2 separate regions of the Homo sapiens genome follow, and region 2 is linked to region 1. A link means that fine-mapping ties the variant in region 1 to the expression of a gene that starts in the linked region. Tissue or cell type: macrophages. Region 1 holds a variant in brackets; the other region holds the start of a gene. All regions are shown on one strand. Distances are from middle to middle.

Region 1 (5,000 bases):
TGGATTTAACAACTAAATAAACAATTTACTATTCTGTGAAATAAGGAAAACTGAGGCAAAAGAGAAATAGTAGAAAGAAGAAAAGGGGGAAATGAAGAGTTCACTGTAGAGCTGCAGCCTTGAAGATACCTATGAAACCTCCAGGTGAAAATATGGTGGGCGGGGGGAGGGGAATTGGATGTACACATCTGGAGCTCAGAAGAGAAAGCAGGGCAGAGGAACGCAATGTGGGAGTGATCAGCACACAGCTTGGTTTTAAAGGCCTAGAAATGAATGAGATCACCTAGGGAAACAGTACAAATATCAAAAGGAGACCAAAGCTATTTCCTGAGTCGCAGCAGAAGCCTCAACAAAGGAGAACCAGCAGAGTGTATTATTGCAGAAGCTAAAAGAGGAGAGCATTTCTAGAAGGGCGGGGTACTCAACTATGTCACCTGACACTGAGAGGCCAAGTGAGATGAAGACAGATGATCCAGTAGATTTGGCAGCATGAAAATCACTGATGGCAATGACACGAGCAATCTCAGTAGAGTGCTGGGGGTGAAAGTCAGATTGGAGTAGGCGAAGATGGAATGAAAGAGGAGGAAGTGAGATGGCATGTAGAGATGTCTCTGAATGGTTCTGCTATGAAGGGGAGTAGAAAAATGGAGCTTTTGATAAAGAAGAAGGCTAGACTAAGGGACAATCTCTAATGATGGAAGACGCTAGAGAACACCAGAGTTTCTCAGTACACTCATGAGAATGATACAAGAGAAAGAGGCTGACGATGCAGAGAGAGTGAATAACCAAAGAAGTCGAGACCTTGAGTGTCTAGAGCAGTAGCCCCCAAGTCAGGTATGCAAGGCTTTGTAAGGCCATCTGGAAGAGTGGTGGGGCACAGGGGAGAGGTAGAACTGCTTTATTTTTAATATAAAATGAAAGAACTCAAGCATTATTAAAATATGTATGCATATATATATATACACACACACATATACACACAAATAGGTTTAATATGAATATTATTATAAAACAGACACGAGTACATGAGTACTACCACCAGCACACTACTGGTGGTGTGCTGGAGTCAGTCCACACTGGCTCATGAGAGCCCACTGTGTGCATCTCTTTCCAACTGCACATTCAGTAACACCGTGACGGTGGCTTGAAACTGTCCACAGTGAGAGTATTTACACTGCGGAAATCAAAAAACACTAAAAATCAAGGCTGGTTCTTTCCCCCTACAGGCCACTTGTTAAACACTTTCTAGGATGTCACTGTATGTGCTTATCTACTGATAAGAGTATGTGATCAAAAATATGTGGATAGGAGAGAAGATACTTCTTATATTGGAATAGGCTAGAAGGAAAAAGAAGGTATGAATTCAGATAGGATGATAAATGTAATAATAGTAGGCAGATGAGTACGTTCTAGGGTTTCTTTTGGAGGGGTGGTAGTTAGAGAATGCTCTGACTTTCTCAATGAAGTTAAGGTGAATCACTAGCTAAGAATGTATGCTGGTCATTAGAGCTGTTTGCCAAATAGTTCTGGATTCCTCCTCTGCCACCCAGCTTTTTGGGCCCAGTGTAAAATTACACTTCCTGGTCCCCTCAGGATGGATGAAACATGGGATTACTTCTGTCCAGTGAAAAATGATGGCCATCCCTTCCAGCCTGGAACATGTCATTGTCACTGCAAGACCCTCCAGCATACTCTGCACCCCTCTGCCACAGCAACCAGCTGGTGGCTGCTTGGATCTCTGAGCTACTTTAATGGGTAGTGACTCTGTGCCAACCCACAAATGATACATAAAATGGACAAGAAATATTATTGTGTGGAGCCACTGAGATTTGAGAGTTATCAGTTACTATAGCATAATCTAGCCTGTTCTGAATGAGGCAGAGTGCAGGAGATATTATAGAAGACATGCAGAAAGTGGGAGGAAGTATGCAGAAGAAAAATGAATGAGTCAAGTCTGAATGTGAAAAAATGACTTTACTAGGTAAGTGTGGTAGGACTGCCCTGCTTCTCAAAATGCCTATCTGAGGTGTTGACCATGAATTGAAAGTGACAAAGAGAAGAGTCATGTGGCATACCACTATGGATTGTCATTGAGATTGTCAGGGATCCATTAAGGATTGAGTTTCCATATTTTAGTTATCCCCATTGGAAAACAGAAACAGTGATATCGTACTTTCTATTTACATAGCTTATGAAGAAAGCAATGCAATCCTGTAAGCAGAGACCAAATATTCTGAAGCCATGAGCAGCAACTCTAATTCTATCACTATACTGGTTACTTTCTTAGCAAGTCCCTGAGGCCCCAGTATACTCAAAGCAATGATGAAGAAGTGATGAAGAAGGTAATTTCTTCACACTGTCTTAACACCTCCAGTACTCTCTGAATGGTCCTTAGTATAAAACAATAAAGAAAAGTATGGTAATTCCCAAGAACTCTGTTTCTGAACACACTCCCCTCTGGGACTAAGAAAGGAATACTGAAAATAATGCACTCATATGCACAAACGCCTGCCCACCCCCCATTAAAATTCTGCTGCCCTTATTCAACATACACTGGGTCTCAACACTGCATAAGATATATTTAATATGGGGAAATTATAACCCTATAGACCAGGAAAAACATATAACCACATAAATATCATCTGTAAATACCTTGACATAAAAAACAGCATAAAAAGAAAATAATGGCATGGGAAAATATTCCATTTTTTTCCCACTCAGATCATGTCCCCTTTCTCTCTGACCATATGTGCTTCTATTCCTGCAGTCCTCAAGTGTCCAGCTCTTAAATACTTCCCCCAGGCTCCTCCCCCAACTCCACACCTGGATGGTCCTTCCCATCCCTGGGTCATTTTCTTATAGAAACCTTTCCTGGACATGGATGAAACTGGAAATCATCATTCTCAGTAAACTATCGCAAGAACAAAAAACCAAACACCGCATATTCTCACTCATAGGTGGGAATTGAACAATGAGATCACATGGACACAGGAAGGGGAATATTACACTCTGGGGACTGTTGTGGGGTGGGGGGAGGGGGAGGGATAGCATCAGGAGATATACCTAAAGCTAGATGA[T/C]GAGTTAGTGGGTGCAGCGCACCAGCATGGCACATGTATACATATGTAACTAACCTGCACAATGTGCACATGTACCCTAAAACTTAAAGTATAATAAAAAAAAAAAGGAAACCTTTCCTGAATCTCCACCCTCAAATAGGTGCCCTCTGTTATCACTCCCCACGCTTTACTTCTCTTTTGTAGCACTTATCTATTTGTAACTATATTTATTTAAACTATTATTAGTTTAATAATCTGTCCTGTAAGATCACAAGCTCCTAAAAGAAGATAGTACTAGTGGCCTGGAGCGGTGGCTTACACCTGTAATCCCAGCACTTTGGGAGGCCGAGGCAGCTGGATCATCTGATGTCAGGAGCTCGAGACCAACCTGGCCAACAAGGTAAAACCCTGTTTCTACTAAAAATACAAAAACTAGCTGGGCGTGGTGGCGGGCATCTGTAATCCCAGCTACTCAGGAGGCTGAAGCAGGAGAATCACCTGAACCCGGGAGGTAGAGGTTACAGTGAGCCGAGATCACACCACTGCACTCCAGCCTGGGTGACAGAGCAAGACTCCATCTCAAAAAAAAAAAAAAAGAAGAAGAAGAAAATAGCATTAGTATCTGTTATAGCCACATCACTTGGTTCCACATAAGTGCTCAAGACTCCTTTCTAAGAATAAAAGCTTTAAAAGACTGAAGCAGATGAGTGGAGATCTTGGCTGGGGCAGGAAAGAAAACTAAATGTAAAGAGGCATGAGAGATCTTTTTGGGGTGCTAAAAATGTTCTAAAACTACTGTGATGATGGTTGTATGCCTCTGGAAATTTACCAAAAATCACTGAATTGTACAATTTCAAAACGTGCATTTTATGGTATGTAAATTATACACATATACAGTTAATCAATAAACTTTTTGAAAAAGAAGATTGATAGATGTGAATATCTGAAAATTTAAATTTTTGTATAAAATAAATCATAAAATTAAAAGGCAAACAAACTGGAAAAAAAAAGTACAACCTATATGGCAGGAATGCAGAAACATTAATGCAGAACCATTAAAAATTTAAATACACACACACACACCCATTCACAAGCAAATTAATAGAGAAGCCTCTTAGCACATAAAAAAATTAACTGCCTGGGCGTGGTGGCTCACACCTGTAATCCCAGCACTTTGGGAGACTCAGGCGGGTGTATTGCTTGAGCTGACGAGCTCGAGACTAGCCTGGGCAACAAGGTGAAATCCCCTCTCTACTAACAATACAAAAAAATTAGCCAGGTGTGGTGGCATGCACCTGTGGTCCCAGCTACTTGGGCAGCTGAGGTGGAAGGATGGCTTGAGCCCAGGAAGTGGAAGCTGAAGTGAGCCTAAGCCTGGGCCACAGAGTGAGACCCCATTTCAAAGATAGATAAATAAATAAATATTAACTGTATCAAAGTTGGAAAATATATAATTTGTATTATACTTAAATTAGTTACTGTCTATCAAATTTGCATTAAAACATTTTATAATAGTAATACATATTGTTGATAATGGCAAAATTCAATATTCTGATAGCGTGCAATTAGGAATGCAAATTATTACAATGTTGCTTAAGGCCAATTGGACAAGATCTATCAGAACCTAAATATGCCCATATCTTTTCATGCAGTTATTCTACTTTTAGGAATTTGTCATAAGGAAGTTATTAAACACACCAAGATTATAAGAATATTCATCATACTGCTATTGATAATAATTAAAAACTGAAAACCACCAAAATGCCCAAGAAGGGTTTAGAAGGGAAAATGGTACAACCACGTGATGGAATATTAAAGTAACAAACTTAACTGTTTGGAAGTCAGTAGGAAACTATACTCATAGAAGAAATTAGTAACAAGATAGACAAGAGATCTCAGTTTCATTAAAAGAAAAACAGTACATATGTAAAAGCTCACAGAAAA
Region 2 (5,528 bases), 770 kb after region 1:
GTACAATGGCGTGATCTTGGCTCACTGCAACTTCCACCTCCCAGGTTCAAGCAATTCTCCTGCCTCAGCCTCCCAAGCAGCTGGGATTACGGGCTCTTGCCACCACGCCCAGCTAATTTTTTGAATTTTTAGTAGAGACGGGGTTTTGCCATGTTGGCCAGGCTGGTCTCGAACTCTTGACCTCAGGTATCCACCCACCTCGGCCTCCCAAAGTGCTGGGATTACAGGCATGAGCCACTGCACCCGGCCTTTTTTCCTCTTTTTTTTTTTAAATGAGCCAAGGTCTCTCTATGCTGTCCAGGCTGGTCTCAAACTCCTTAGCTCAAGTGATTAGGCTGGTGTCAAACTCCTAAATTCAAACTCCTAACCTCACACCTCAGTCTCCCAAAGTGCTGGGATTACAGGTGTGAGCCACCACACCCGGCCACAAACATATTTTTTTAAAAATTCTTTAATTATATAATTTTTAAAATAAAGATATAGGGTCTTACTGTGTTACCCAGGCTGATCTGGAACTCCTAGCCTCAAGTAATCTTTCTGCCTCAGCTTCCCAAAGTACTGGGATTATATGCATGAGCCACCATGCCTGGCCACAAACAAATTTTTTTTAAGAATTATTCAATGTGTATAATTTTTAAGCAAACAGGGCCTTGCTCTGTTGCACAGGCTGATCTGAAACTCCTAGCCTCAAGCGATCCTCCTGCCTCAGCCTCTCAAAGTGCTGGGATTACAGGGAAGAATTTGCAAATTTAGAACTTGTGAATAATGAGAATCTACTGCACTTTCTTCCTGTTTCTCTCATTCGGGGCTGGCTGAATTCTGTCTTACTCATATTTTATCTCTAGCATCTGGAAAACTGCCTGGCCCACAGTAGGCTCTCAATAATAAATGTATTTCCAATGAGCGAATGAGTCAATTCAGTGGAAGTGCTCAGCTCACAGCAGTGATAGCTAGTGTTTGTGAAGACACACCACGCGCCTGCCCCGTGCACGCTGTCCTGGTCAACAAGGGAAACAGCAGAGTATTGTTCTTTTGCACCTGAGCTCAAGAGCAGACTGCCTGGGTTCAAATATGGGACATGCTTCTTATTAATTAATTATATAACTTCGAGCAAGATCATTGGCCTCTCTGAGCCTCAGTTTCCTTGGCTATCAAATGCAGTATTCATAGTTCTACCGTGGAAGTTATGGTCAGGAGTCTAACTTGGCCCTGCACAGAAAGCCTCTAGCATAGGGTGAACCCTTAGTAAACAGTAGCTTTTATTGTGAATAATTCCCAAGGCAACCCGATTTTCACACCCATTTTGCAGATACAAAAACTGAAGCTGAGGATGGTTCAGTGAGTTTCCAAGGTCACAAAGGAAGGGCTGCCTATGGGGGGGAATCTATGCCCATGTTAGTAACACTGCTGTTATATAAACATAAGGGGTCAGCGGGGCGCAGCGGCTCATGCCTATAATCCCAGCACTTTGGGAGGCCGAGGCTGGAGAATGGCTTGAGCCTAGGAGTTTGAGACCATCCTGGGGAATATAGTGAGGCCCTATCTCTATAAAACAAACAAACATAAGGGCTCATTTTTACTAGTTGTAAAAGGGCCCTTTTACTAGTTGTAAAAAAGGCTCGTTATAAGGCCTCTCACTGCCTAATCAGCTAGGTTTGCCAAAATGAGGAAGACAGCTCCAGCCAGTCTCCTGATCTTCTCTGGGATCAGGGTGGGGAGGAACCCCCTTCCTACCCATAAACCCCTAAGAGTCTTCGCTCACATTCCACACTGGTGTCTTTCTGTTCCTTGTCCACTTTCGAGTTCAACCCTTTCAGAACCAGCCCTACTGTGGGGGGTGGGGGATGGTTAGTTTGTTATCTTGGGTTTGACAGTACAAAGGCAGAGGCATTTCCTGCTTAAAAGGCACATGAGAAAGGAGGAGGAGGGCGAACTGGAGGAATAGGAGGAGGAGGGAATCATCAGCATTCTGGGTTAGAACAAACAAATGTCCTCCGTTTTTCTCCAACTCCTTAGATCAAGGGTCCTCAAATTTGGCTGCCAGCTGGAATCTCTTGCAAACATTTTAATACCCAGATGTCCAGTCCCCCACCCAGACCAATCACATCTGAGTCTCTGGGGGGGGGCGGGGGTGGAACTAGGGCATCGGTATTTTTTTAATGCTTCCCAAGCAACGCCAACGGGCAGACAAGTTTAAGAAGTGGTGCTCTGGACCTTATCAGCACTCGGCTGCCACCCTGGAGTGGCTCTGGGCGACAGTGGCTGCTTTCCGCTTCGAGGACGCCCGGCTTGGGGATTCGGGCATGCTCTGGGAGGCGAGGGCTGGGGAGGATGCGAGCGTGCCAGCGACCTGGTGCTCTGCCTTGCTCTAGGCCCAGCTCCGAGGCTGCGGGTCTCTGGGTCCCCCCCACGGCTACAACACGTGCTGCCGCCCCGACTCCTCCGGTTATCTCTGCAGACCGCAAGCGGTGCCCAGCGGCCGCCCCGCTGTCCACCCCGACCTCAGAGGCTCCAGGGAGACGCCCGGGGCTCAGGAATCCTACCTTGGCTGCCGGCGCTGCCCTCCAGTCCCCGGAATCCTGGGACTCAGGTTCGAGCTGTCGCTGTCGCTGTCGCTGCGCCTGTGAAGCGCCCACTAGAGCGCAGGCGCCACCTAGTGGGCGCGGGGCGGCTGCGCAGGGACCGCGCTGGCAGGCGGGAGCGCAGTCCAGGGCGGAAATGCAGCCAGGGCTTCTTCCCACGTGGGCGGTTTTCCAGCGCGCCGCCAGCCCTGTGGCCAGATCCGGCCTGGGGCGGGACCACCTTCACCCGCTGCGGGGCACTGGGATCTAAACTTGGTGAACTTTCTCTTGGGGCACGGAGGGACCCCTCGGCCTGGTATCCATCCTCCGGTTTTCCGGGCTGAGCACAAGGATCTTTCCCTTCATCCAGCAGCTTTCAGTGCACCCCACCTTTGGCACTGCTTCTCTTTTAAATGTGCTGGGACCATCCGAGGCTGGGGTTCTCTCCAACCCAGGGAGGCCCTTCGCCTATCAGCAACCATTTTTTCCTGCCACCCCCTAAACCGTCCCTGAATGAGAGAAACAGCCTGCTCTGCTGGCTTGCTCTACAGAGGCCAGGACTGGTGGAGGATGGGTGTGTGCCAGCGACCTCGTGCTCTGCTCTGCTGGAAGGCCTTCTCTGAGCAGTGGAAGGGGAAGGGGCGGCTTAAGGGAATTGTGTTTTTTGTTTTTTGTTTTGTTTTGTTTTGTTTTTGTAGAGACAAGGTCTCTCTATGTTGCCCTGGTGGCTCTTGAACTCCTGGTCTCAAGCGATCCTCTCACCTGCAGCCTCCCAAAGCACTGGGATTACCGGAGTAAACTATGGCTCCCAGCTGCCTGGTATTCTTTCAATGAAGACATGCCAAAACGCTTACAAATATGGTGGACATTTAATGGTTTATATTTCATTTATGTCTTCATTTAACAACGATTAACTGAGCACCTACTATGTGCCACTTTTCTACAATCAAGGGATACAATGAAGAACAAAACACAAAAATCTCTGCTTTTGTTGAATTCACATTTAATGTAACACATGAATACTTTTAACACACCCAACGATCTAATGCAAAGCGATTGAGCTCGTTGTGAGATAAGTAGAGGATTTATTAAAAATATCTATATTTAGGGCCAGGCACCGTAGCTCACGCCTGTAATCCCAGCACTTTGGAAGGCTGAGGCAAGAGGATCGCTTGAGGTCAGGAGTTTGAGACCAGCCTAGCCAACATGGCAAAACCCAGTCTCTACAAAAAATACAAAAATTAGCCGGGCGTGGTGGCAGGAGCCTGTAATCCCAACTACTCCAAGGCTGAGGTGGGAGAATCCCTTGAACCCGGAAGGAGGAGGTTGCAGTGAGCTGAGATCGCACCACTGCACTCCAGCCTGGGTGACAGAGTGAGACTCTGCCTCAAAATCAATCAATCAATCAATCAATCAATCTATGTTTAGGGCGCCAAGGGCAGACATTCCTGGTGATGGATATAAGCATTACAGAGTTCTATGGGAACGTCTTCACGTTTTCTTGTAATCCTGGCAGTTTATCTCTGTGGCAACATTTGGAGATAATGCCTTCAGTGGAAATTTCAGGTGATTTGTGAAAGTTAGGCCTGCAATCCTCCTTTCCCCCTCCCCCCGGCCCCCACTCTGCTCCCCCAGGACGCTCTGTCATTGTTCTAGCCCAGTGTGAGTTTGTGTGTGAGTGTGTGCCTATTTAACCTTTGGACTCTCTGTACTGGTGTAATCTGGTCAAAGTGAATATCAAGGGCAGAGGAGGACAAGGAGGAGCAGGAGGAGAAGGAGGATGAGGAGCAGGAGGAGGAGCAGGAGGAGGAGGAGCAGGAGAAAGGAGGAGAAGCAGGAGCAGGAGGAAGAGGAGCAGGAGAAGAAGGAGCAGAAGGAGGAGGAGCAGGAGGAGGAGAAGGAGGAGGAGCAGGTGGAGGAGGAGGAGCAGGAGGAGGAGAAGCAGGAGGAGCAGAAGGAGAGGAGGAGCAGGAAGAGGAGGAGAAAGAGCAGGAGGAAGAAGAGGAGGAGAAGCAGGAGGAGGAGGAGGAAGAGCAGGAGGAGGAGGAAGAGCAGGAGGAGGAGCAGGAGGAGGAGGAGAAGGAGCAGGAGGAAGAGGAGGAGAAGCAGGAGCAGGGGGAGGAGGAGGAGGCAGAGCAGGAGGAGGAGCAGGAGGAGGAGGAGGAGGTGTCATCTGTGGACAATACCTGGAAGGGCAAGGGGTGGTGGGTGTCACTAAAAGGAACCAGCCCCAGCTACTTCACTGCAGGCTGGTGCCCTGGTGAAGGTGAATCAGTCAGAGGAGTGCTGACTGCCCATGGTAAGTACCAGCTGCCAGACAATTTCCCATTCTTTCACTTTAAAGTGTCTGAGTCATGTCCAGACCATTCTTGCCCCATCTTTGCAACAGCTCCCTCCCCACCACTGTGCCCCAAAGCATGCCTGGGCAAAGTCCTAGATTACAACCTCTGGATTCTGGCATCACCTGATGAGATTAAGTCTTCCTAGTGACTTTCTCTTCTGAGTTCTCCTGGCATTTTTCTCATTCTGCTAATCACAGTGTTTCTGGAAACTGCAGAGTTATCAACAGATCTGTTTTCTCCATGGAAAACAGGAGTTTTGGTAGGCTGAAGTATGTAAATAACAATAATAAAATATTTATAACGTGTTAGACACTAACAGTTTTCTTTAAGAGATGGGGTCTTGTTCTGTCATCCAGGTGATCATTGTTCATTGCAGCCACAAATTCGAGCTCAAGGGATCTTCCCACCTCAGACTCCCAAGTAGCTGGGACTGCAGGCATGTGCCACCATGCCTGGCTAATTTTTAAATTTTAATTTCTTTTTTTTTTAAGAGATGGGGTTTATTGTTTTTTTTTTTTTTTATGTTGCTCAGGCTGGTCTAGAACTCCTAGCATCAAGCATTTCTCCCACCCCAACCTCCTAAGTAGCTGGGATTATAGACACAAGCTGCCATACCTGGCTCATG

Direction of the effects. Alleles are on the strand shown, and positions count from the first base shown. SD is a standard deviation of normalised expression in the study named.
For the expression in macrophages of the gene that starts at base 2,630 in region 2, allele C in region 1 goes with a higher level than allele T (large effect, 1.0 SD a copy in Alasoo 2018).

Evidence for each region.
Region 2: it holds the start of CHD9, and the variant in region 1 is fine-mapped to the expression of CHD9 in macrophages (Alasoo 2018, PIP 0.95).

Annotation. Positions count from the first base shown.
Region 1 is chr16:53,818,664-53,823,663 of GRCh38, reverse strand. All of the region lies in intron 2 of FTO (FTO alpha-ketoglutarate dependent dioxygenase), which reads right to left. Among named protein-coding and RNA genes, the nearest start is that of FTO, 120 kb to the right of the region's middle. The variant T/C (reference allele first, on the strand shown) is at 3,078.
Region 2 is chr16:53,052,093-53,057,620 of GRCh38, reverse strand. It overlaps CHD9 (chromodomain helicase DNA binding protein 9), which reads right to left and starts at 2,630. Exons shown (of 39, transcript NM_001308319.2): 1 at 2,544-2,630. CHD9NB (CHD9 neighbor) reads left to right here and starts at 4,724. Exons shown (of 3, transcript NM_001396020.1): 1 at 4,724-4,860. RefSeq lists enhancers at 2,243-2,292, 1,805-2,336.